Regions from separate parts of the Homo sapiens genome. Here regions 1 and 3 are each linked to region 2. Evidence: fine-mapped expression QTL. A gene starts in region 2. Each other region holds a variant in brackets. All regions are shown on one strand. Distances are between the middles of the regions. Region 1 overlaps SLC44A3-AS1 (SLC44A3 antisense RNA 1). Region 2 holds the start of SLC44A3 (solute carrier family 44 member 3). Region 3 overlaps SLC44A3 (solute carrier family 44 member 3).

What was found. PIP is the estimated chance that this variant, and not a neighbour inherited with it, causes the effect.
Region 1: its variant is fine-mapped to the expression of SLC44A3 in tibial nerve (GTEx, PIP 0.97).
Region 3: its variant is fine-mapped to the expression of SLC44A3 in whole blood (TOPMed, PIP above 0.99).

Annotation. Positions count from the first base shown.
Region 1 is chr1:94,764,141-94,772,323 of GRCh38, reverse strand. All of the region lies in intron 1 of SLC44A3-AS1 (SLC44A3 antisense RNA 1), which reads left to right. Among named protein-coding and RNA genes, the nearest start is that of MIR378G, 22 kb to the right of the region's middle. The variant G/C (reference allele first, on the strand shown) is at 4,844.
Region 2 is chr1:94,816,489-94,824,671 of GRCh38, reverse strand. It overlaps SLC44A3 (solute carrier family 44 member 3), which reads right to left and starts at 4,315. Exons shown (of 15, transcript NM_001114106.3): 1 at 4,194-4,315; 2 at 3,616-3,723; 3 at 37-179. The coding sequence starts at 4,220. SLC44A3-AS1 (SLC44A3 antisense RNA 1) reads left to right here and starts at 4,440. Exons shown (of 6, transcript NR_160780.1): 1 at 4,440-4,716. RefSeq lists a silencer at 4,122-4,311.
Region 3 is chr1:94,842,389-94,850,571 of GRCh38, reverse strand. SLC44A3 (solute carrier family 44 member 3) reads right to left here. Exons shown (of 15, transcript NM_001114106.3): 9 at 5,108-5,294. Among named protein-coding and RNA genes, the nearest start is that of SLC44A3, 26 kb to the right of the region's middle. The variant C/T (reference allele first, on the strand shown) is at 3,559.

The sequences.
Region 1 (8,183 bases), 52 kb after region 2:
GAACAGAAAGAACTAGCCAAACTTGTTTTCAGAGTCTAACACTTTGAATAGAGGCTAGAATTCTCTTACTGACCATCACGCCATGTACAAAACATTGCCAATAAACTGCTGAATCTCTGCATCTCTTGGGCTTAAATGGAAAAGCGTCTTCTCCAACCTGGGGAATAAAGTATAGGCTTTGTAATTTTATGTAAGGAAAACCCAATACTAGTTACTCTTTCTGGCATGCTTACTATGTGCCACATATATGGTGCCTCTATTATGCTGTACAAATGTTAATTCATTCAATCCTTGGCCTTAAGTGGTAAAATTTATATTATTCTGAATTTTATAAAGGAAAAGAGTGAGGCTCAGTTGCTTTTCCAAAGTCGCACAGCTAGAAAGTGGCAAAGCATGGAGTCAAATTGACTATAAGCCCTGCAGACCAGAAAAGGTGACACTTTGCCTTTGAAGACACAACAAGAGGGCTTTCCTGGATGTCTGCCAGAAACTGCTGTCTTCTGGCAGGTTCTGGGCCTCTATTTTCCATGTTCAGACTCCTAAAGGGAACAGGAGAACACTTGTTTATTTCTGTCTTCTTCTGGTCCCACTTTTACATCCCATCCCCATGGGAGGGTAAAAAAAGAAGAGGAGGCCCATCCACCTCCACTTCTCCTCTTGATGTTTGCACCAGTGGCCATAGAGATGGGGACAGACCGGACTCTGGTGCCATGGACTGGCACATGGTCTCAAGTTTCTGGCCCTGGGGTTGGAATACAGTTCCACTTGCTCTGTAGGAGATCAGAGGGATGCTATTTACAAACATTGAGTTATGTGAACTCATTTCAGTGGATTTGGGAAAATTACTCTCCATGGGAATAAAAGTTATCAAGAAAGAATTTTTAAATACTCTATATATTTGCAGGTCGAATTTATTATTTCCTAATACAACTAATATAATTATCCTCTCCCATGTTCTTCAACAGATGTATTCCAGAAACATTTTGTCTGAATCTTTAAAAGACTGCTTTGCTTTTTCTGATATCAGGTCAATAGAGAAATGTGCCACCCTGCTAGTAAAAGCCAGTTTTTGAGCAATATCTGCATAACTGTTAAATGTGTTATTATTATTATTATTTTTTGTCTAACTTTCATCCTGCACTCTTCAGCAGAACTAAAGATACTCCCTGTTCCAAGGAAGCTCATAATCTAATAATGCCATTGGAAAGTCACTTGTTATTAGTGTAGGCCTTTTGCAAATACCCTCCAAAAAAAGCTTAATGTGAGTTTTAATCCAGATAAATAAACCTATTAAGAAGGAAAAGGAGAAGGAATAAGTCTCATGAAGATTTACTACTCTTGGAGTTTGTTTTCTTCGCTGTAAGGAAGAGTTGTTCCCCATTGCTTCAATCACAAAAAACCATTAAACATAGACCAAGAAGGGGGAAAAAAACCTTACAAGATCACTTTATAAGGGACAATAAGTACTTGAAAATTAGAAAACATCCCTTTAAATTTGGGAAGTCTTTAAGTGCTCTGGGTGAATACATGAGTGGTAGTAAAGAGTGAAGTGTGCAAACTCCAATCTACAGTCAATTTGGCAGCAGAATTCTCAGTGTGCTACGGAAGTAAGCAAATGTTAGAGAGGTAAACAGATTCCAGATTAACTTACCTGGAAGAGTCTCCAAGAGCAGCTGGGAAGCAGAAGAATGCAGCTCCTTTCTTGCCATCTGGTTTGACTGGAAATCCACTGGTCTGGTGGTTCCATTGGCATGGGGGCATTACCCTCCTCCCCTTCTCCCCAAACCCTTCAAAATTTCCAAGGAAGCCTGTCAAGCTCAGTTAAGACTCAATGTGTCCCCAGGGTCCTTTTTTGCCACATGGAAGAAGAGAGAATGTGTCTTATCTTGATGATTTTCTTCTAATCAATTTGAGTGTCAACAGCTAAATTTGAAAAATAGAATGCAAAGTGAAGACTAGATTTATCATTGTTAAGCTAGGAAACCAAGAGTCTGCATTTCTGTATTCTAGGGTGAAAATGGAAATTCACCTGTGGAACTCACTGGCCATTGTGGAAGAAACAGTAAGATGACCCTCCCTTCATTATGCTGGCCAATATGGTATCAGATCACTTTGTGTTTCCACTTCAGAACTTTGTGGGTGACTTTTGTTCACTGTTGTATCCCCAGCACCTAGAGCAGTGGCTCATGAAAAATAGAGTTTCAATAAGTATTTGTGGGAATGAATGAACGTTTGATCAAAAGAGGTAATTCTCTCATGCTGCCAAGATGAATGTGGGGGCTTGGAAATGTGTTCCTAGAATCCTGCATTGGAGATTGAAACTCAATTGGAGCTTTCCTATGGAAGCAATGTTACATAAAGTGATTGGGAGTTATTGAAATAGTGCTCTTGGCACCATGATAGCTGTAGGCACTTGTGGCTTGGCATGATGACTTTGTTATAGTCTATGTCACTGTTTCCATGGGAAAATACATTCTGGGTCCCAGGACTTGGCTTATAAGTGACTTTGGAAATACAAACCAGTCTTAGTTGAGACCTGCCCGAAACTTTGGTTTGACTGTGGCTGTCTTGGAATGTGTCCAAAATAAGGCATTGCTAGGAAACCTGAGTGGCCTTTCTTCTTGTGGCTGGTTCCTACCAGGAAGGGTGGTGTCATGTCAGGAATGTAGACTTGAAGTTTGTAGACCATACCATGCTAGCTATGACCCTTCCTTAAGTGGCCTAAAAAGACTAGAGGATTTTTAATGGACTGGGGAAAGGTCCTTCCAGGTATGTTAATATCCCAAACAATTTAGCTACATAGAATGTGGCCCAGAAACATCACAGTGGGTCACCAGCAACCATGACATTCAGTGAGGTTCAGAGACAATCAGGGTATTATCCTAGAAGATCATAATGTTGGGTATAATATTTGTGGCATAATTGTTGTTTAATCAGCTCTGGGATATGGCTGGGCTATCTTACAGAACAAACAGCCTCATGCACGCTGATGCACATTTGAAGGAATATCCTTCATGTAGACTCATTCAGACATCCCAACCTGCTTTTCTGCAGATTGGGGGTTGGTGTGAGGAGCCAGTAGTCTCAGACAGCACTAGTATTGAGGCCATGGATGTCCAGGGAGAAGCCTGGCACCTTATTCTTTGGCATGAAGACCGTGGGGCCTCAAGGGAAGGTGGAAAGTCTAAGGCTCTCTGGTCATAAGATAGGGTCACCTGGTGATGGAAGGGCTGCAACTGGCCCTGAGAGGGTTCCTGACTGACCACACAGATGTACTTGCTGGGACATGAAGAGATGTCTCTGCCATGAGGCTGGTGGGTCTTGGCAGGGGACAGGGGCAGAGTTGGAAACAGAAATCTAACACAAAGGTGAGAGAGTGATTTTAAGTTGTTGGAGGAGTTATGAGATTCTAGCCAGGGTGTAGGGAATGAGGTAGGGGTGAAGGACAGCACTGACCTCTTGAATAAGGGCAGTATCAGTAGATACTGTGTCACTGTGTCCCCTTCAGGGGCCCCTCTGGCAGTGAACGAGGCTAATACAGTGTGTTTCTGCTCAGGCTTGTTAATGCCTTTCATTGCTTTCTCTCTGTCCACACAGGAGGCTGCTTGTGTTAGCCTCATTTTCGGTAGACTCTACTCAACTGTGGCAATGATGGGCACCTGTAGTACCAAGCTCATATCTCACTAGATTTGCTGCAAAGAAGACCAAGCAAAGTTCCAAGGCTGATGCTTTGCAGCCCAGAATGGATCATGACTATTACCTTGATTGGCCAGGCCTAGGACGGGGGTAACCACTCTCAAGCCCTTGGACTGAGACTGGGGGAAAAGTGGTTCCCCAGGAAAAACTGAGTTCCTATTATCTAAAGAAGACATGAATATTCAGCAGAAAAACATCACATTTCCACACTTTTAAACTCTGAAATATGTGGCTAGGTATAAGTCAAAGCCAGAAATTAAATGAGGGAACAGTTCTCTGAGGCCTTCACGCAGCTGTTAATGTTCCTAGAAAGTGAAGGGGTTTTCCCTGATCTATTCTATAACGTATCTTAAGTAGAGTACTTTCAAGTTCTTGTCCTGGAAAATCACCACATGATTAACAAACCCATAGACTGGAAAATTGGGGAAGGGCAGGCAGAAGACTACAAGAGAACTCTTGTACCCTTTCAACAAATAGGCAGCATCACTTAGCACAAAGGAGGAAATGAAGCAATAATTGAAACCATGAAGTGGGTATCTTTGTATGCGTGCATGTTGTGAAAAAACGTGCATCATCCACATTAACACATAGCCAGATGAAAACCCAAGTCATCTCCTTTACTGTAATATTATTAGAAAACAGTGATACTTATTATTTCTTCATCACTTTCTAAGTTACGGGTTAATCTAATCTTGCAATGAGATTCTTCTGCATCAGGTAAAGTTACTCTTATTCTTCAATGATACCTCTTCAAAGAGTCTTTCCAGATTCATGTAGGGAGGGATCTTTTTTTCTCCTTCTTGGTAGCTGCTCACTGCTTTTTGTGCATGCCAGTATGATAGCACTTGTCGTGTGGCACTGTGATTTTTTATTTGTTCAAAAGGCTCTATCAGGCAAGAGCTATGGGCTTTGAGGTGCATCACTTGACTTCCCTGAAACACAAACTGGTAGAATAACAGTTCATCCCTCTTAGGGGTATTGCAAGAATTAAATTAAATGAGCTGTTGCATGAAAAGCACTTAGCATAATACCTGGCTTATAGTGGGAGCCCAGTAAATATTGGCAGTTAGCATTTTAGTGTTTATTCTCATTAAAATAATAATGATTATAATAATTATCATTGCTATGTCCTCTACTAGGTGGAGAA[G/C]TGCTTGAGGGCAGGGACTGTTCTGAGATCATAGTAGGTACTCTGTGGAAAAAAAGGAGGGAGGAGGGAAATAAAAAATGGAAACAACAAAGAGGGCAGCAATACCAGGTTTGCCCAGAAGTGACAACTCTAGGTAGCCAGAAATAGCCTCTCCAGCTAGAAGGGATCTCATGACCTTTTGTTTTATAGAAAAGGAAATGTAGGGGCCAAGAAAGGTTAAGGAGCATGTTTAGGATCACAGTGTTGGCAGCAGTGGCCTGGAATCCAGGCTCTCTCCTGGGGTTAACCTTCATAGCCCCTGCTTTATTGGCATCTCCACCTTCCTTAGTAAATGCCCATGTATCCATATGGCTTGATAAACCTTGGCTGATGTCTGCCACTGAGAGAATAGGGCATTTCCTATCTATCCCCAGATGGAGACTGAGGAGAACATGGATATTTGATGGGAATGTAATGTATTCGTTATCTTTTCAGTGTCTTTCTTGTAAAACCCAAAAGGCAGCCATTAAAAAATAATATGATCCTGGTCTTAATCCAGCAGGCTCCAAGCAGCCTCAGCCATTATGAGAGTTACTGACTCTAATTGCAAATTATGAGGCAGTTAAAGAAATATAGCATATGTCCTTCTTTAATATAGGTTTGAACCTTCTTTAATATAGGATTGAACTGAACTGTCTACAAGGATTACTGTCTTCCTTGGGAAATAGGCAAGCACTGAGCTGACACAGGAGCCAAAACAAGGTCTCTGGAACGTATACTGGCAGGAATATCAGAAAGGAAACCCATTCCTGTGTTTGAGTGGATGGGACTCCTCAGAAGTGAGAGAAAATTAATACTGAGATTGACAGAGTGCTTGAAAGGGGAGGTGAGAATGAACTAAATGTAAGAAAGCCAGGTTGGGTATAAAACTGTCTGTAACTGAATATACTTCATCACAAGCATCATGATCTCATGTGTGTATTATGGGTTACATTATACCTTAGGTACAGTCATTTGCCCAAATTGGGAATTTGCACCCTAGGGTGGAGAGCCAGCATTCGAATTAGGAAAACTGTACTCCAGAAGCAGCTACTACAAGAGCTCCCATGACCTTTATCTATGATCAATGGTAGAGGCTCTGCTAACTGGCATACTTAATGTTAGAAATAGGTTTCCGTTGATGAAATCCGTGGCTTCTTAGCATAGTGGATGCTCCAAACAGAAATTCATTCGTGAACTTACTAGTGGTAAAGATAAGTGAATTGTCTCAAGTATTTTAGAGTAGCTTCCTGCTTTTGATTAAAAAGAGTATAAACATCTAGCCAGTCCTGTAGCTCTTAGTGATGCAATCCTGGATCAAGATTTGGATTCAGAAGTTACTAGTTTCTTGATGTCAACTATGCAGATTAATTGAATTCTGTATCCAAAATATTGTTGTATTTACCTGAAAAGATGATGTGCTATCAGGAGCTAAAGAAGCCATGCTTTAACTATGAAGGGATAAACCCAAGGACAATATGCAAAGTATGTTATTTATCCAATGCTCTCTGACAAATTACTCCAAAATGTAGTGGCTTAAAACAACAATAATAATAATCTCCCATGATTTCTGTGAGTCAGGAATTTGAGAGCAGTTCTGGCTTGGAGATTTCTCATGAAGTTACAATCACATGTTGGCTGGAGCTGTAACTATCTGAAGGCTTGACTGGGGCTGAAGGACTCACTTCCAAGATAGCTAACTCCATGGCAGACAAGCTGATGCTCCCCGTTGGAGGGAGGCCTTAGCTTTTCTCTATGTTGGCTTCTCCATGTGTCCTGGATTTCCTCACAACATGGTGGTTGAGTTCCAGAGGCAAGCATCTGAAAACAGAGAGCCAGGTGGAAGCTGTATCCTTTCTGTGATCTACCCTCAAGAGTCACATAGCATCACTTCTGCCCCACTCCATTGACTGGGACAGTCACAATCCCCTGCCTAGATTTGAGAAGAGAGAACACAGACCCTTCCCTTAATGGGAGGAGTGTCAGTTGCCAGTCACATTGTGTGAAAATTATGTGCGATGAGATAAATATGTAGGTGTGGCATTTTTTGAGAAATACAACATGCTACAATAAGTAAGGATGGCAATGAGAAAAGGTAAGAAAACAAAAACAAAAAACCCACCTAGGGCCTTGATACCATCACTGGGCTACTGAAGTAATCAACCATGAAAACACCTACCTCAGAATATCTTGTTTTGTAAGATAGTACTTTATCTTCATTATTTTATTTGGGTATTCTATTATTATAGCTGAAAATATTTTAATGGATATTACTTGGTAGAAAAGCTAGAGCAAAAGACCTGGATTCAAATTCTCCCATGGCTCCCTAGATGATATTACTTCAACTAAAGTATTTATTCCCATTCATGTATTCAACAAATGTTTATAAATGAACTTCAATGTGCCAACAAGGTACTGTTTAAGACAGTAAGAATGCAACAGTGAGTAAAACCGGCAGAGATCCCTGTCCTCATGTAGCTAACAATTGACTATGTGTTCTGTGGGACTGTCTGTGTGTGAGGGAGGTGGTGGTATGGAGTGGCAAGAAATAAACCAGGTAAATAATTAAGATGATGTTGAGTGGTGAGGAGTGCTATGGAGGAAGATAAAGCAGGACAGGGTGACAGTGTGACTAGGGAGGTCCTCATGCACAAGGTGACATTTGAGTAAGGACTTGAAGGAGACCCAGTGTGTATTAGGAACACTTCTAGTGGGACCTAAGGGAGTCAGTGAGGGGAAGGATAGTAGGAAGTGAGGACAGACGTTTTAGGAGATGGGAGCAAATTGTATAGTGAAATGGGAAGCTGTTGAGCTTTTGATTAGAGGGTTATGTAATCTGACTTACTTTTTTTTCTTTTTTTAAATTATACTTTAAGTTCTAGGGTACATGTACACAATGCGCAGGCTTGTTACATAGGTATACATGTGCCATGTTGGTTTGCTGCACCCATTAACTCGTCATTTACATTAGGTATTTCTCCTAATGCTATCCCTCCCCCTACTCCCCACCCCATGACAGGCCCCTGTGTGTGATGTTCCCCACCCTGTGTCCAAGTGTTCTCATTGTTCAATTCCCACCTATGAGTGAGAACACACGGTGTTTGGTTTTCTGTCCTTGTGATAGTTTGCTCAGAATGATGGTTTCCACCTTCATCCATGTCCCTGCAAAGGACATGAACTCATCCTTTTTTATGGCTGCATAGTATTCCATGGTGTATATATGCCACATTTTCTTAACCCAGTCCATCATTGATGGACATTTGGGTTGGTTCCAAAGTTTTTGCTATTGTGAATACTGCCACAATAAACATACGTGTGCATG
Region 2 (8,183 bases):
GTTCCTTACAGACTGGGGACTTATTTAGATACTTACTTTTTTAGGGTCATGTCCTGCCCTGAAAGAGGGGCCCCTTCCACGGGGGAGTTCTTCTTGCCACACATGTTGCCAAAGCTGTCATAGCCAAAGAGGAGTCTTCCCGCGGCTCCAGCCACCACCGAGTAGCCCATGATAAACACCTGGCAAAAACGGGGGCATATGAGAGCCTGGCCAAAGGGCTGAGCGCACAGTGCCCCACACCCCTGCAGATGCTGATATAAAACGGAGCCTGGTGGAACGTGAAGCTCTCCAGCATCATAGCGCTTTGCTCCGTCAGTAACAGTGTCAGCAACTCCCATCTATCAGCATCCTGCTCCTCTGCTACTTATACATTTAGGTAGAGAGAGAATCTAATCCACTGAAACAGATTTCTCTCCATTTTCTTACCTCTGTGCTTTTTAACCTTTTCCTTAAGAGTCTATCATTTTTCTTTTTGGTCTAACTTTACTGGGACAATTCAATTTTTCTTCCCTTGATGTTCTTGCTTAATTTAACTGCTTCAGGGCTATGCTAATTCTTTCCCCAAGGTTTTTTTTTTTTCTACTACTTTTTTTGTTTTTCTTTTCTTACTTTTAAGGGATTCTGCAGAAGCAACACAGTTGATATGTACTGAAACACTGTTCACCAATCTGCAAATAGTGTTTTGGAGTAACTGCTTAAGACATACAAAATAAAGGACCACAGGAATTCTGTTGGACAAGAACATCTTGCAATCTATCATCATTTTTATCCACTCTCATAGTGAATGTGGAATATTTGAAATTTCAGTTCAAACAACTGTGCCATTAATACATACTGACAGGCTCTCTGCCAAGATTGAATATGTATCTTCCCATAATGCAAACTTAGTAAGTTTCCCAGTACTGTATGCAATATATAGGATACCATTTAATACTCTATATTGACAAGTTCATTCCAGGAGAACAGATATAATACACTATTCATTAATATATAGTATTGATACCTTATGCTGCAAAGGTACATTGTCCTAAATTCAAATACCTTCTAGACATTCTGCATTTATTACTAATTTAGAAATCAAAATAACAAACATTCTTCAAGTGCCCAGTGTGTTCTTGAGACTTTCTTACTGGGAGACACAGGAATGACCAGAACCTACTCCTTGCCTCCAGGAACCCAGCCTAGAAGGCAAGCAGGACTTACGGGCTGCAGACCTCCTGGGGAAGGAGGCTCCCTGTCCTTTCCCACTCTCCAAGATCCTCCTAAGTCTAACTGGTCAGATTCTAGAATGAATGGGTCACCTTTGCTAGTAGTGTGTGTCACTCACCCTTTACCTAAAGGCTGTGGAGTAGGTGTGACTCTGTTTGCCAATGTGGCTGGCATGGCAAGCTGACTGTGCCTTGACATGCTTGTCTCGTCCTTTCGAGTTGGAGTGTAGTAAGGTCTGGACTGTGTTTGGATTTAGAGGGAGGAAAGGGGTCATGTGCTTCTGCCCAGCTCACCAGTAATCTAATAACAAAGTGATGTTTTCCATTTACCATCATTCTTTCCTTTGGAAAGCCTGTGGTGAAGAATGGAAAGTTTTTCTGGGTGGGAGAGGTGGGAGTGGTTTCTGAGGATTCCTGAGTCCCTCCTAATAAAACTATGACTTTATGATTATTATTTTTTATGTTTTGTAGACACAGGGTCTTGCTTTATTGCCCAGGCTGGTCTTGAACTCCTGGCTTCAAGGGATCTTCCTGCCTCGGCCTTCCAAGAAACTACTACTATAAACCTTCATTGTCCTAATTTCAAACATGCAATTGCGATTCTATATGACAGGTGATATAGGAGGTGTGTACATTGGTCTAGTACATTGGCCACCAAGGTAGTCACTGTCAACCGTGCCTGCAAAATCAGGAAAATGGAATCTTGAGGGATGATAGGAAAAGGCAGGGCAGGAGAGGATACTGGAGGGGTAAGTAGAGGCAGAGATAGTCCAGACTTTGAGACTTTGTTCCTTATGTTTAATGCAAATATAAACACAGGCTGGTGCTGCATTTGCAAGAACCATCTCTGCTTATAATTTCAGCTCCTTCCCCCAAGCCTTTGTCCAGCCCTAACTCAGGGCACACCATCACCAGTCAGGACATCTGTCACAAGACCTGAAAGCTGAACAACAGAGGCAGAAAAAAAAGTCCAAAAACAAAACACTCCTTGCTCTGTTTTAAATACCTGCAAATAAAAAATGTTGCAAAAGACACTAAAAGCCAGTGAGCTAAGAAAGGACTCTGACTCTTAAAACAGAATGCCATAGTGAGAACTTGGATATATTAAAACTTCAGACTTATTTTGCAAATGAAATGTAATTTTAAAGCAGTTTCCAGCTCCGTGCCACCTCTCAGCTGGTTCACAATTCTTCAGGCTGTGATAGGTCATCTACAAAGATTTTCCCCAGGATTCTCAGCTGTTGGGCTGAGAGTTTGGTAGTGAGGTCCTAGGTTGAAGCTGTGGAGGGGCTACGGCAGATCATTAAATCACAATAACAGCTTGAGGTCAAAGCTGCCAGGCACAAGGCAGGCCAGCTGCTCCCTGCATTTATACAACAGCAGTCTCAGATAAAAACACCAACCATCTGCGAAGTTAAGCAGAAGGTATTGTAGGTGCACTGTCTCTCCCAGCTCCTAGGGGAGAGTTCCAACGTAAGCAACAAAAAACATCTGATTATGTGTTTCAGACCTAACCTTCCACTGTGCCTGTAACCAAGCCTGTCTATGTGAAACGGGTCATAAGTGAACAAATGCCTTTCTTACTTGGAAAGAACAAACATGATATTTTAGGGCCTATTCAGATGGAATTCTTTTCAACAAAGGTAATTACTATCTGGTAGTTATTACCCTGCTCTATAAATTAATCATTTACCATGCAGCAAATAGCATGCCTTATCCTGGCATGGATGATTTCGTGAAAGTGGCCTTTGAAAATGTCGGGTGAGACGTTTTCTGCTGTTACCTACAATTCTAAAATAAGTATAAAAGCAGCAAGATTCGGCTTCCAACAGACTCTCTCAGGATTATAACCGCATAGCCTGATGGAGTTTACCAGCAATCATACATACCTCGAAATTAGAGTGGGAAAAATCATTCCTTGTTAGCTATGGTTAACAGTGTTGGCTGCTAAACACAACATATCTCTCGCGCGCGTGTGTGTGTGATGTTCAGCTAAAGGAAATGCAGTTTATTTCTAGGCTTACCCTGGCTTTTCCTTTGTTAAAGGTGCACCAAAAGCTTGAGGAATATTTGATTTGGGGGTGTGGCAGGTGCTAAAAGAACTTCTGTTCAGTAAGTTCGGAGAGTAAAAGGAGACACATTGGCCTTACTAAATAGCAATCACATTGCAAACTGTTAATTCCCATTTCCTAATGGAGTCACCCCTTAGAACATGGCCTGTAGCAAAAAGACAGCCTTTCTAGCGAGTCTAGGACAAGAATTCTCCCGAGTACAAACTGATGTTTATTGTGGGTTAACGGCAGAAGTCTCTCACTGCAGCACCAACTACGATTTACATTTGGGACAGAGTTATTTCCAGACGTGCACACACACTCTGGCCTCTTTCCTACCAAGCACCCACACTTACCAAACCAGTCCAAAAGAGAAAGAACAGGAATAACCATGCCGTATCTGTGCATTTCCTATAAATCTGGGGTCGCCACTCCCTTTGCCTAGGGGCTCCTTCTGCAGAAACCTTCCAGAAAAAGGGAGAGTTGAGAAAAAGAAGATAAACAGGTGGACTCAACCTGGAAACCGAACCCAAATCTACTCGAAGAGGGGCCAAAGTAACCAATCTTTTTCTAAATTTTTAAAATTAATATTATTTTTTTACGTGGCCACCTGAAGCTCTTTCACACAGCCTTTGAAACACCTGCTCTGCGCGGAGCGGATGTTAAGCCCCCTGCCGCCAAGTGCTTACCTGGAGGTGCACCTGAGGACGACCCCAAGTTTGCGCCCCGCGGCCCGCGTCTCCCCCGCCTCCGCCCCAGCACTGGAGCAGGGTCCAGGTTCCTCCCCGCCAGGTGGCCCCAAGGTACTAAGCGGGGGCGGGATCCCCGAGGCGCGGGAAAGGCGGAAGCGTCCGGCAGGGAAGGTGCGTGAAGGCGGGGGACTCGACCCTTCCCCGGGGCTCCTCCCCCGAGGGCCGAGGCTGCGAGCGCTTACCAGGTACTCGGCGCCCAGGCAGTGCATCGTGCGCTCGCCGGCGGGGGCCGGTGACTGGGAGCCGCCGCCGCCTCCTGTACGCGGAGACGCAGCGCCCGCGAGCCGGGGCCGGGGCCGGGGCTGGGGCTGGGGCTGGGGCTGGAGCCGGGGCCGGGCCGGGGAGGGGCGGGCACGGTGCAGCGCCGCCTCCCGTTCGCCTCTGCGCCTGGCCCGGCGACTGCGGGCGCTGCGGTCCACTGGGTCCGCCTCTTCCCGGCATGGGTTTCTGCCCAGCTCACCCGCTGTCAGCTGGGGTCCTGCTCTGGTGGGAGGAAGAGGCTCAGACGCTTCCCTGCCCTCTCGCCTCAACCACCTCGAGGCAGCGGCTCCCAGGATGTGCACTTTGACGACTAAAGCTGAGCCGGCGCCGCCACGACCTTGGGCGGGTGGTCGGCCTCTGCCCTGAGCAGGAAGTAGAAAGTCTCAGCAGACCCTTCCTGAGGGCCGAGCAACAGTGTAGTGGCGTATTCCACATAGCAAACAGGTAAGCAGCATTTACTGTGTGCTGGATTCTGTTCTCACTGCTATTGTTATTCCTAATCTACGGAGGAGGGAAACTGAGGCACGGCCATTGGTGATGCAACTTGTTCGAGGAGACCCAGTAAGTTGTGGAGGCAGGAGTCGAACCCAGACACTCCGGGAGACCGGCGCTCTCGAGGTGGTTTACTCTGACTTCTCTCCCACCTTGCCTTAGGACAATCATTGCCTGACTTCGCAATTGAAATGGTAGTGTCCACTGAAGCGACTGGTGGCATAGTTTTCCAGGTAGTGTCAGACCAGCGCAAAAGCACTGTTGGGGTGAGGAATTTAAAAAACGAAAAACAAAAAAAACTGCAGGCCGACCTCCCCCCACCTCCTCTCAATCAAGCCTCTACCCTTCCCCCTGCCACCCTTAGGGTTGCTAGGTTAATTGCTTCCTTTAGGTGCTGCTTCTCCCTAAGGGTAGAAACCTGACTGGAGGAAAGATCTGGGTAAGTGGGAGAAACTGGGAATGATAGACAGTGGTTCTCTGGTGCCAGCGATTTCCTTCTGGGCTCACACCACCCTCCCACTGCAAACTCACTGGGCCTTCCTGGATGCATGTTTATCAGACAGAGTAGGTGAAACCCCAGGGGAACATGAATTCATAGGACAAAGAATTAGACACTGGAGGAGTGCAACTACTGTTAAAAGACCACAACTGAATAACATATGCCATCTGAAACTGATCAGTAGAGCAGATGGACCAAGATTTTTAAATAAGCATGATAAATTTATTTAAAATGAGTTATGATATTAGCAATATGAATCAGGAAAAAATATGAAACTAAAACATATTAAGCATAAAAATAATAATTAGAATGAATATTGATGCTACGTATTAGTAATGTGCAATAGTCTAAAAGATGCAGCTGACGATGAATTAGTAATTGGAAGAGCACTTTCAGCAAACCTCCAGAGGCAGTAGAAAATGTTTTAAAAAACAAGTTAGCTTATTTGTAAATTTTCTAGCTTATATCTAGGGTAAAACTAGAACAGAAAGGAAGAAATATAAAAACAGAGAAGGGGAAATATTTGAAGATATAATGGAGATAAATTTCAAGGTAGAAAAAAACCTTCAGATTGAAAAGGTTTATCTCAAGCAAAATGTTTCTATATGTAAGTATTTAAAAGCATAACTTTGAACTTATTTTCTATTAAGCCATATTGTCATTAGAATGTGAGAATGTATTAATAATAAAAATATTCTTATGAAAGATTCATTTGAATGACATTCTTGGAGGACATAATCAAGCAAGAAGAGAAACAAATTCAGGAGATGATACAATAGATATAGCATGAGAGTGGCCAAATATTTAGGCTGAATTTATTGTTGTGTTAGAAAAAAGACCAGGAACCACCCAAGTGTCCAGGAACTGGTGGGTGGCTATACATAACTGTGATGCATCTATACGATGAAATACAACTAAGCATTAAGAAGGAACAGACTTCTTACATATGCAAAAACATGGATGATCTCAAATGCATGTTAAGTGAAAAAAAGTCAGATATAATAAGCTACTCTATGATTCCATTTATGTGACATTCTGGAAAAGGCAGAAAATAGATCAATGGTTGTCAGGTGCTGGGGGTGAAGGGAATCTGGAGAAACTTTCTGAAGTGATGGAAATATTCCATTATCTTGAGAATGGTACTGATGACCCAGTGGTATCTGTTTGTCAAAATTTGTAGAACTGTACACTAGAAAAGGTGAATTTTATTGTATGTAAACTGTATTTCATTAAACCTGACTTACAAAAACTCTTTTCAAAAGTCTAAAAACAAAGAACAGTGTATTTATAATGATTCAGACCTAAAATTATAGACAATATCAATATTGTGAGGGGTGTGGGACTCAGGAATGAGAGGCCAAAATGATAGGACAGTGATCTAAAATAGTGCCATTCAAAGGGTGGTTCACAAAACTTAATTGTTCTCTAAGAGATAAGGAGCTTGTACCAGAATGCATATCAGCTATGTCATAAGCAAACTCTTTGATTCAGCTGACACTTTCGTAGCAAGACTTTCTCAATGAAGGAAGCTGTGTGTTGATTTACATGTGGGCTCAAATCTCATTCTGGAATGGATGAGATAAGTAACCCAGTACTACTTAGAGTACTTAGAGTAGTACTGGGTTAAATTACTATCATATGGGAGGAAGACGAAAAAAATTGTTAACTTTAATAAATCAATAGGGATAAATATTTGTGAATGTAGGTCTTAAGGGTAACTACCGTTAAAAAAGAATAAAACATGTAACTTTTAAAGCAGTGGAAGAAAATTTTATCAAATGAAAGGCAAGAGAGCAGAGGAAAAAGGAATAAAAAGAAAGTGCAATAATTAGAATATATGAAATTTGATAGCAGAAATAAAATTACTAATAATAATTTTTACTTTCAGTGTACCTAATATGTTCCAGATACTTTTCTGGGTGTTTCTTATTTGATCCTCATAATAACCTTATGAGGAAGGTACTATTACTTTCATCATCCTCATTTTATAGATGATGAAACTGAGATTAACTAACTTGCTAGAAAGTGGCAGAACCAAGGCCTGAACCCAGGTGGTCTGGATCTAGAACCCATACTTAGAACCATACTTAGAGCTATTCTATGCTGCCTCCTAAATAGAGCAGCAATTACAATAAATGTAAGTGGCTTAAACTAACCAATTAAGAAAAACAGTCTTTCAAATTGAATGAAAGCAAGGGATTCAGCAATATGTTTTCTACAAGAAACTTGTGTAAAACAGACACTAAAAGGTTAAAAGGCTTGAAAAGGATATAGTGCAAATGTGAACCAAAGAAAGCTCATGTAGTAATTTTAAAACCTGACAAAATAAAACTTAAGATAGAAAGTTCATAAGGGAGGTCATAAATGTGCCCAACAATACAGCTTTAATATTTATTAAGCAGCAGCTAACAGAAATTTAGGCAGAAACAGATAAATCAGAATTATAGTTGGAGATTTTTAACTGGCTCCTCTCAGTATCCAATAGATCAAGTAGACAGTAGATACTTCCTCTCCTCTCCCAACACACATACACACAGAAAGCAAATATACAAGGTCTGTACAATTTAATTAATAAACTTGAGCCATTAGATATTTATAACTCATATACGTTTCCATCAAACAGTGAATACATGTCCTTTCTCTTTTCAGGTACATGTGAAACATTAAAGTAAAAACATAAACTGTGTATTAGATCTTAAAGGGAGGCTCAATAAATTTCACAGTGCAATAAAATTAGAAGTAATGAATAACAGTATGTGTGGTGGACAGATTTTAAGGCCCCTATGATTTCCACCTCCTGGTGTTTACACCCTTATGTAGTTCCCTTCTTCAGATATGGGTGGGACCTGTACCTTTCAACCAATTATGATGGTTAATTTTATGTATTATTTTGAATAGGTCAGCCATAGGGTATCCAGAT
Region 3 (8,183 bases), 26 kb before region 2:
TGCCTCCTTTCCAAGCTCACCCCTTTGTGTATCCCAAGTACACGGTGTATGCTGTGTGCAGTCCTGTGATTAAATCTTCTAACTGCAGCACAGACCTCGCGGGAAGTCCACTCCCTGCCAAAATCCAATATGGTTCTCTTCTATTGTACAGACTCTGGAGCTTCCAGACCACCTTAATGAACACTGGAGGTGACCAGGTCATCTGAGCTCTTTCCAACCTACCAGATTACCAAGGTTACCACAGTTTTCACTTTTTCCTATTGGATTTTAGTAATTACTGTCTTATTGCTGGTACCAGACAAATCCCAATGGACTACTAAATGTCATTGTTGGGTGGTGCAAGATGGGGGCTTGATATGACCTGCTGAAAAAAAATCCCCAAACAAGTCAGAATTTGTCAACTAGTCAAAAGAATGATTAACAGTCATTAGAAAAATAGCCCATCTGGGCAAAAATGATCAACCCAAGTTCACTCCTATTTTTTTTAATGCAGTAAAAAATAGTATTCATTCAACCATCTGACACAACTATTTGGGTGGCTCACGCCTATAATCCCAAAACCTTGGGAGGCCAAAGCAGGTGGATTGCTTGAGCCCAGGATTTCTAGACCAACCTGGGCAACACGGCAAAATCCTGTCTCTACAAAAAAATACAAAAATTAGCTAGGCATAGTGGCATGTGCAGCCCCAGCTACTGGGGAGGCTGAGATGGGAGGATCGCTTGAGCCCGGGAGGTTGATGCTACACTTGAGTCTGAGCAACAGATTGAGGCCCTGTCTCAAGAAAAACAAACAAACAAAAACCAACAAAAAACAAAACACAAAAACAAACAAACAACTATTTATGTACTGAGGACGCCCACACACAAAACTGGGCGCTAACTGAAGAGTGTGTCTGTCCCCGCTGAAGCTGCCTGTGGGACGTGGAATGAGACAATCGGGCACTGTGCAGCGGGCTCGCCACCCGATCACCTGGCGCCTCTTCATAAGAGGTGAAAGCGGCTCAGAGTCCCTCTCAAGTGTTAGCTGGGGCATCTTCTGAAGATCAAAAAGTGATTCAGCTGCTGATCTGCCCAGCCGCAGAGCCAGGCTCTCTGGCACTGGTGAAAAGGCCTCTGAGAACAAAGGGGACCCTGTGCACCTGGGTCGGCCACAGGCAGGTGGAAGGAGGGGACGGGTGATTTGGTTTCTATGATGCCTGACCCCAGCGGGGTGGGGAAGGGGGGTGGTGGCTCTGCGTAGCACCTTCTCTCCTGAGAAGCCTAAAATCGACCTGCTCATAGATGCCTCCCATAGGTCCGGGGCACCCAGTTTCCTTTCTGGCCCCTCTACTGTTCTCGCTGTTTGCTGCTTGCACTAACAGTGAATCGTCACACTTCACTGTGTGATCCTGAGAGGTGGCTGCAGAATGACACGCTACCTTCAGCCCTGAAGAATAACCTCCAGGTCTCTCTTGCAGTGGAGGCTACTAAGCCCTGGGCCCAACCTAGACCTAGTCAGGGGCACAGGCTGGCAGTTAAGGGGCACAGGCTGGCAGTTCATGCCCAAGTCAGCCTTGGGGCTTGCTCCTTTCTGACTTCACTGGCCTGGGCTCTTCCCTTGACCTCTGTGGCCAGGTCCTCTCCTTGTGCTGCCTTGACTTCTGCTGCATCCCCCTTTGCCTCTTTCTGTATTTTCTGACCTGGCGATTTCCAGCCTGCCCTCTAAGAAGCCCTCCCTGACTCACAGCATGGGTTACGGCCTTGTTCTGGTGTTCCCATAGCTCCCCAGATTTCTCTGATCATCACATCCATCAATCTTCACTGCGATCACACGTTTCATTGTTGGACCATCCTGCTTGACTATAAGTACTGAGGGCAGAGAGTCGACCTCAATCCTGTTCCCTACCTCTCCCTAGTGCCGTGCTCAGCGCCTCATCCCCACAGTGCCCACCAAATACTTCTGAATTAAATTAAAACCATCCCTGCTCCAAAACATCATGGGGTCTAGCCACAGACACAGTTCCCCTTATCCAGATTCACAGCCAACAAGGGGCCCCCTGGCTGGGCCAGCTGCACCTAAGGAGGTGGGAAGAGGAGGGTCCTTCACTGGTCCTGAGCCATATTTCCTAAGACCTCACTGTTTCTCTGATGATTCTCTAGAGGCTAGGGTTCAAGCCCTACAGTGCTGCTGCCCAGGGCCACTGCCACCACCTCCATCACACCTCATCCCCAGCTGGCTCTAGCTGTCAACCTCCAGCCCCAGACACATTATGGGCACAGCCCACATCCACCAGCCAACTGCTGTGGTCCCTGATACAGCTTCATTCTGAGCAAACTTGAAGAGGCCTATTTTTTTTTTTTTTTGAGACAGAGTCTCACTCTGTGGCCCATGCTGGAGTGCAGTGGTGTGGTCTCAGCTCACTGCACCCTCCGCCTCCCGGGTTCATGCTATTCTCCTGCCTCAGCCTCCCGAGTAGCTGGGACTATAGGCGCCCGCCACCACGCCCGGCTAAGTTTTCTGTATTTTTAGTAGAGACGGGGTTTCACCGTGTTAGCCAGGATGGTCTCGATCTCATGACCTCATGATCCGCCCGCCTTGGCCTCCCAAAGTGCTGGGATTACAGGCGTGAGCCACTGCACCCGGCCTAAAGAGGCCTATTTTTATTTCCTAGCTTTGGATCCCAGATGCAAGGGAGGTGTAAGGTAGTGGAAAGAGCACAGGCTCCATTCCAAAGCTCTAGAGTCACAGCACGTCATGCCTCCCAGCTGTATGACCTCCGGCACATGACTTCCTCAGAATCTCAATTTTCCTGCCTGTAACTTGAACATAACAATACCCACATCACACGGGGACTGTGATGCCTGGGGGACAGAACATAAGAAAGCATCCAGTACAGAGATTAGAATCTAGGACATTTTCAACAAAGGCTTGTTTCCCTTCATGCACCGGGGCCACTGCCCTCCCTTCTGACCAGGGCTGAGCCCACTTCAAGCTCGCTAGAGGAAGGCCATCCAATGCTGAGACTTCACCTGTCTCACGATATCTATTCTCCCCTCTTTTCTTGGTTATAGAACCTCTGATTGGTGCGTGCCTGCCCAAAATGAAACTACATTTCCTGGTGTCCCTTGCAGATAAGCACTGCTATGTAACTGGGACCTGGCTGATGAGGTGTGGGTGGAAGCGCCACCTGTGACTTCTGGGAGGGGCATGCTCGCTTTCCTCCCTGCCACCCTCCTCAAGGTCGGAATAAGACATGGCAGTGGGAGCCTGAGCAGCCTTTCACTATGAGGTGGAAGCAAGGGCAGAGGCTGCAGAAGAAGAAAGCGGGTGCCTGAGTCCTTGAGCGCTAGAGAACTAGGCTGGCATGGATCCTCTCCATGTGGACTTCATCTGTGTGACAGAGAAATTACCTTACATCCTACTTTAGCCACTGTTGTTTTGAGTTTTCTTTCACTTCCAGACAAACCTCATTCTGATGGATTATACCCTTTTGACCAATGTTCCTCCCTGGGTAATTATCAGAAGTTCACTGCAGGCCTTCAGCGAGCTTCCAGGGAGCCCCTAGTAGAAGACTGCCC[C/T]TATGCACCTCTGAAGGTGGAAACATAGGCCTCCAAGGGCCATGCCTTCCAGGCAGCCTGCTGACGATCTTGGCACTGTGGCCTCAGTTAGCTCCAGAGGAGAAGGAAGGGGACTGAGTTTACTAAGAATCTATTACATGGCAGCTGTTCTTACTTATATGACTGGAGCCAGTAAGGGACAAGATAAACTTGAGAAAACATTAAGGAACTGCATCAGCCTTGCTGATTTGACATCAGCTGTGGTCCTTATCAGTCTGGTGACAGTATCAGGAAGCCACTTACTCTTTTGTACTTGCATCCATGTGTACTGAATTTGGGCCTTAAGAAAATCAAACAGAGGAGTTAGAAAAGATCTGGACAGTGCCACTCAAAGTGTGGTCCACAGAAAAGCTGTCTAACCTCACATTGTTAGTAAGATAAAAAGCTTGTGCCAGAATGTAGATCAACTGCATCACTAAGCACATCGTTTCTCAGCTGACAGTTTCTTCCATAGCAAAACTTTCTCAATGAAGGAAGCAATGGAATGACGTCCATTCTAGCTAAGCTCCTTATCTGGCTTCAGACTGCACTCTGAATAGTGCTGCTTTAGAATATGCTTGCCCTGTTACGGAGCTTTACAAGAACATATACTAGGTCCCACCGCAAACCACGTGAATCAATCTCTGAGGCTGGCACCCAGATAACTGTATTTTAATAAAGCACCAAAGCTGATTCTGAGAAATAGCCCTGGTGAAGAACCACTGTGTGGATATGAAAAAAGGATGGAGGAGAGAATCTTGTCTTTTCAGGACCAAGGCATGTGAACTATGAGTTTGCTTTAAATGTACACTGGCTCTGCTGGGCATAACACTTTTTTTTTTTTTTTTTGAGACAGAGTCTTGCTCTGTCACCCAGGCTGGAGTGCAGTGGCGCAATCTCGGCTCACTGCAACCTCCACCTCCCAGGTTCAAGCAATTATCCTGCCTCAGCCTCCCCAGCAGCTGGGATTACAGGTGCACGCCACCACGCCCAGCTAATTTTTGTATTTTTAGTACAGACGGGGTTTCACCATGTTGGTCAGGCTGGTCTCAAACTCCTGACCTCGTGGTCTACCTGCCTTGGCCTACCAAAGTGCTGGGATTACAGGCATGAGCCATAGCACCCGGCTGCACAATATATTTTTAATAGAGTCTTTCCTGGGTTCTTCTTTGTCACCTACTGATTTGATAGGGGTTGGCAAATTACCTTGGATAAAACTCATACCTGGAGACATCTGGTAATATTCTTGCTGTTGGCCTTTGTTCATATTGTAGTTTTTCCTAGAGCTTTCAGTCCTTACTGAATTTATTCTCTCATGAAACACAAACCCAGCTTCTTTAAAACCAATATAGAAGAGGTAAAAGAACTTCCCACTTTTCCCCATGACAGAGCCCCAAGCACCAACGCTGCTGTCATCAGACACCTCTGGCTCAATGAGGGGTTAGGTGCCTACAGAAACAGGCCAGTGGTTCCAAAATGGTCTTCTGTGTATGACTCCAAGGTGATGGAACCCACACCCACTGTCCCTTACCTGCAGTTCCCAGGCTCAGCAGCACAGCCACCCAGAGGACCCAGAAGAAAATGAGGATGGCAAATGTCCACAGTGGCTGGAACAGCAGGAAGGGAGCACTGCTGATGGCTTTATTTGTGATTTGGAAAAGCTCAACTGTCAATTTTATTCTCTTTCTGAGAACAAAAATCAAGACGAGCAGCACTGCCTGGTGAGAAAGGGATTTGAGTAAATTACTTCCAAATAATGGAGAACTGGGTAGAGCTTAAAGCAAGCCCTACTATTATTATGACATCTCAGCAAACAGCTCTTTTAAGATAGTTACTCACTACTTTGTTATAATTTTACAGATGCATTCGCAAACACTAACTGAGCATCTAGTAAGTGCTGGTCCCTGGAATAGATCTTAATAGACATAATAGCGAAGAAGACACAGTCCCTCCATAAAGGGCCTTGTAGTCTGGTCAGTGAAAAAGATAAAATGAGAATAAGGTCTTCTAATGTCAAGGAACTGTCTTATATCCTCCCCTCCACATCCCACAGAACCCAAGATATTGCAAAAGTCAAGGGAATATGAGTATGAGGCAAAAAGACTCAAAGCCACCTTCTGTGCCTTCTTCTAGCTTTCCCTCCCTGCATATAAACATTTACAAATCTCATATTAATGAAACAAACCATTCTGCACCCCTCCATCCCCATCCAGCCACTGCCGTCTCTTACTGTTTTCATGGCCGAGCTTCTTGGCTTGTCTACACCCATCATCTGTATTTCCATACCCCAACTCATTCTTCAACCACCCACAAACATCCAGATCCCAACACTCTTTTGAAACAGCTCTCTCTGAAGTCACTTCATGTGACCTCCTGAATGTTAAATGCCATGGAAACATTCCAGGTCTTGCTTGACTTCAGCATAGCATTAGATCCCTTGTCCACTCCTCTTTTCTCGAAACATTTTCCTCCCTTGGCTTCCATGATCTTTCTTTTAGCTCTCCTACTTCTTTAATTGCTGCTTCTTGAGATCTTCTGGGGGTATCTCCTATTCCTCTGTGCTTTCAGCATCCTTCCTAGATGCTGACAACCTCCAAATAAAAACCTCCAGCCTCACTTTCCTCTAGGTGCTGGAAGAATAAGCACATCAGTTATTGACAAGGCCGTGGATGTCCTACAGTATGTCAGACTCAATTTATCCTGAATCAAATTCATTATCTTCATACTAGAACCTCCTCTTCCCCCTGTATTCTTTACCTCCAGTGGCCCTAATTTTTCTAGACTTTCCAAGAGTAAGTTAGGTTCCCCTCTTGTGTGCTCCCATTTTATTCCACACTTACCCTATTGTACTATTTAACATATTCTATAAATGTTTTCTCGTCTGAATTTCCCATTAGATTAGGCTCCTAGAGAGCAGGGCCATTCTTATGGTCAAGGACTGGCAAAGTGCCCAGTACAGTCTCAATCACCTCTGGTTCAGTTTCCTCAATACCGCTCATGCCTTCCTTTCCTCTCTGTTTCCACCGCTGATGCCACAGCTCAAGTCTCAGCCTCTTTCTTCTAGACCCCAATAACCTCATTAGCTTTCTGCATTTAACCTCCCTGACCACCCCCCCCACCCCGCCCCACCTCAGTCCCTCCTCCACTCCACAGCTAAGGGGACCTTTGTAAAGCGCAAACACAAAGATGGTGTTTCTCGGCTCAAAATCCATCTACGGCACCCCAGTGCCTCTGGAGAAAGATCAAACCTATCATCATTGCAGATCAGGACCTTTGTGACATGACCCTCCCTGCACCTGCATCTCAGGCTTCCATCAAGGGAACTTCCTGCAAGTCACACCCCTGCCCATGTGACCTCATGCATGCTGTGCCCTTGGCCTGAGATGCTCTTTCTCTTCCAGCTTTGCTGGAGCGTTTCTGCCGTCAACAGTCAAGTGGAGGAAAGACAGTGACAGTGGATAAACTGCAGAAGCTGCTCCAGGATCTGGGAGCACAGCCTCCTGACCATGCAGGGAGAGGTGTCAGGAGAGGCCCCGCAAGACACCCAGAGGAGACCCTTCAGTTGTAAAGGCTGAGGAGGAACTTCCATCTGGGCTTTTCTGAGGATGAGTGAACTAGCTCATCTAGCAACCGGGAATTGGTAAGAACTCACAACAAATGAACGGGAGGTGAGCTGGGACTCAATTCTGCCTTATAGAGTAGCCCCTGTGCAGAACTCATGGACCCAGGTGAAAACAGCCTCCCTGCTCACATGGCCTCCCCTCTCCCTAACCTTGCCCCGGCCCTGAAATCTGGGTGGCATAAATGGTGCAGTGTACAAACAAAAAGGGAGCCCTGTGGAGGGTAGACGGAGGAACTGGACCCTCCCCAGCCCCCAGCCCTGCTCCTCTTCCCCTATGCCCAGCCTGGGGAATGGGGAAGCCCTTTCATCTCCAGCCTCCTCTGCAGACTCTGTTGAGTGTCTGGTCTGGTCCCTGCCTGAGGCGAGAGCAACCAGGTGCTTTACTTTATTGTACCCTTACTCCCTGGCACATTTTATGTGAAGATCACAAACCCAAAACCTCACCGTGGAAAGGAGAAAATGTGAAAACTACCAAATATGAGAATAGAAGGATTTCCTATGAGAGAATTTTGTTGGTGTGAGAATCTGCATTTGCTGCAAGATTCAATGGGCTTGTGGAAACCCCTGGCTGCAGCTGCTCCACAGAACAGTCAGTAAGCAACACACCAGCAACGACGACTCTGGGGGACCTGAAGCCAGTGTGGGGTCCGCCCCAGGGCCTTGTGATTTGAGCCTTCCTAACGGCCCCTGGAGAGGGTCCTGAATGACATTTGGTTGCCAACCACCCACCACCAGTAACTAATACCTGCTCCCTCAATATTCTAAGTCAGCCTGTTTTCAGCTAGAGAGTTCACTGAGGAGGCAGCAAGTTCTCTGAACACCAAAATAACCCAGTGGCCAGCGGGTTTGGAAACAAAGGGCTCTGTGTGCTAGAGGGCAGCGGAAGCTGAGCATACACTGGCAAAGGGGAGCCGCACCTCACAAACAGGGAATGGGAACTGCCGTAAGCCTGCCTCCGCCCACCCACCATGCCCACCTTGTAGCC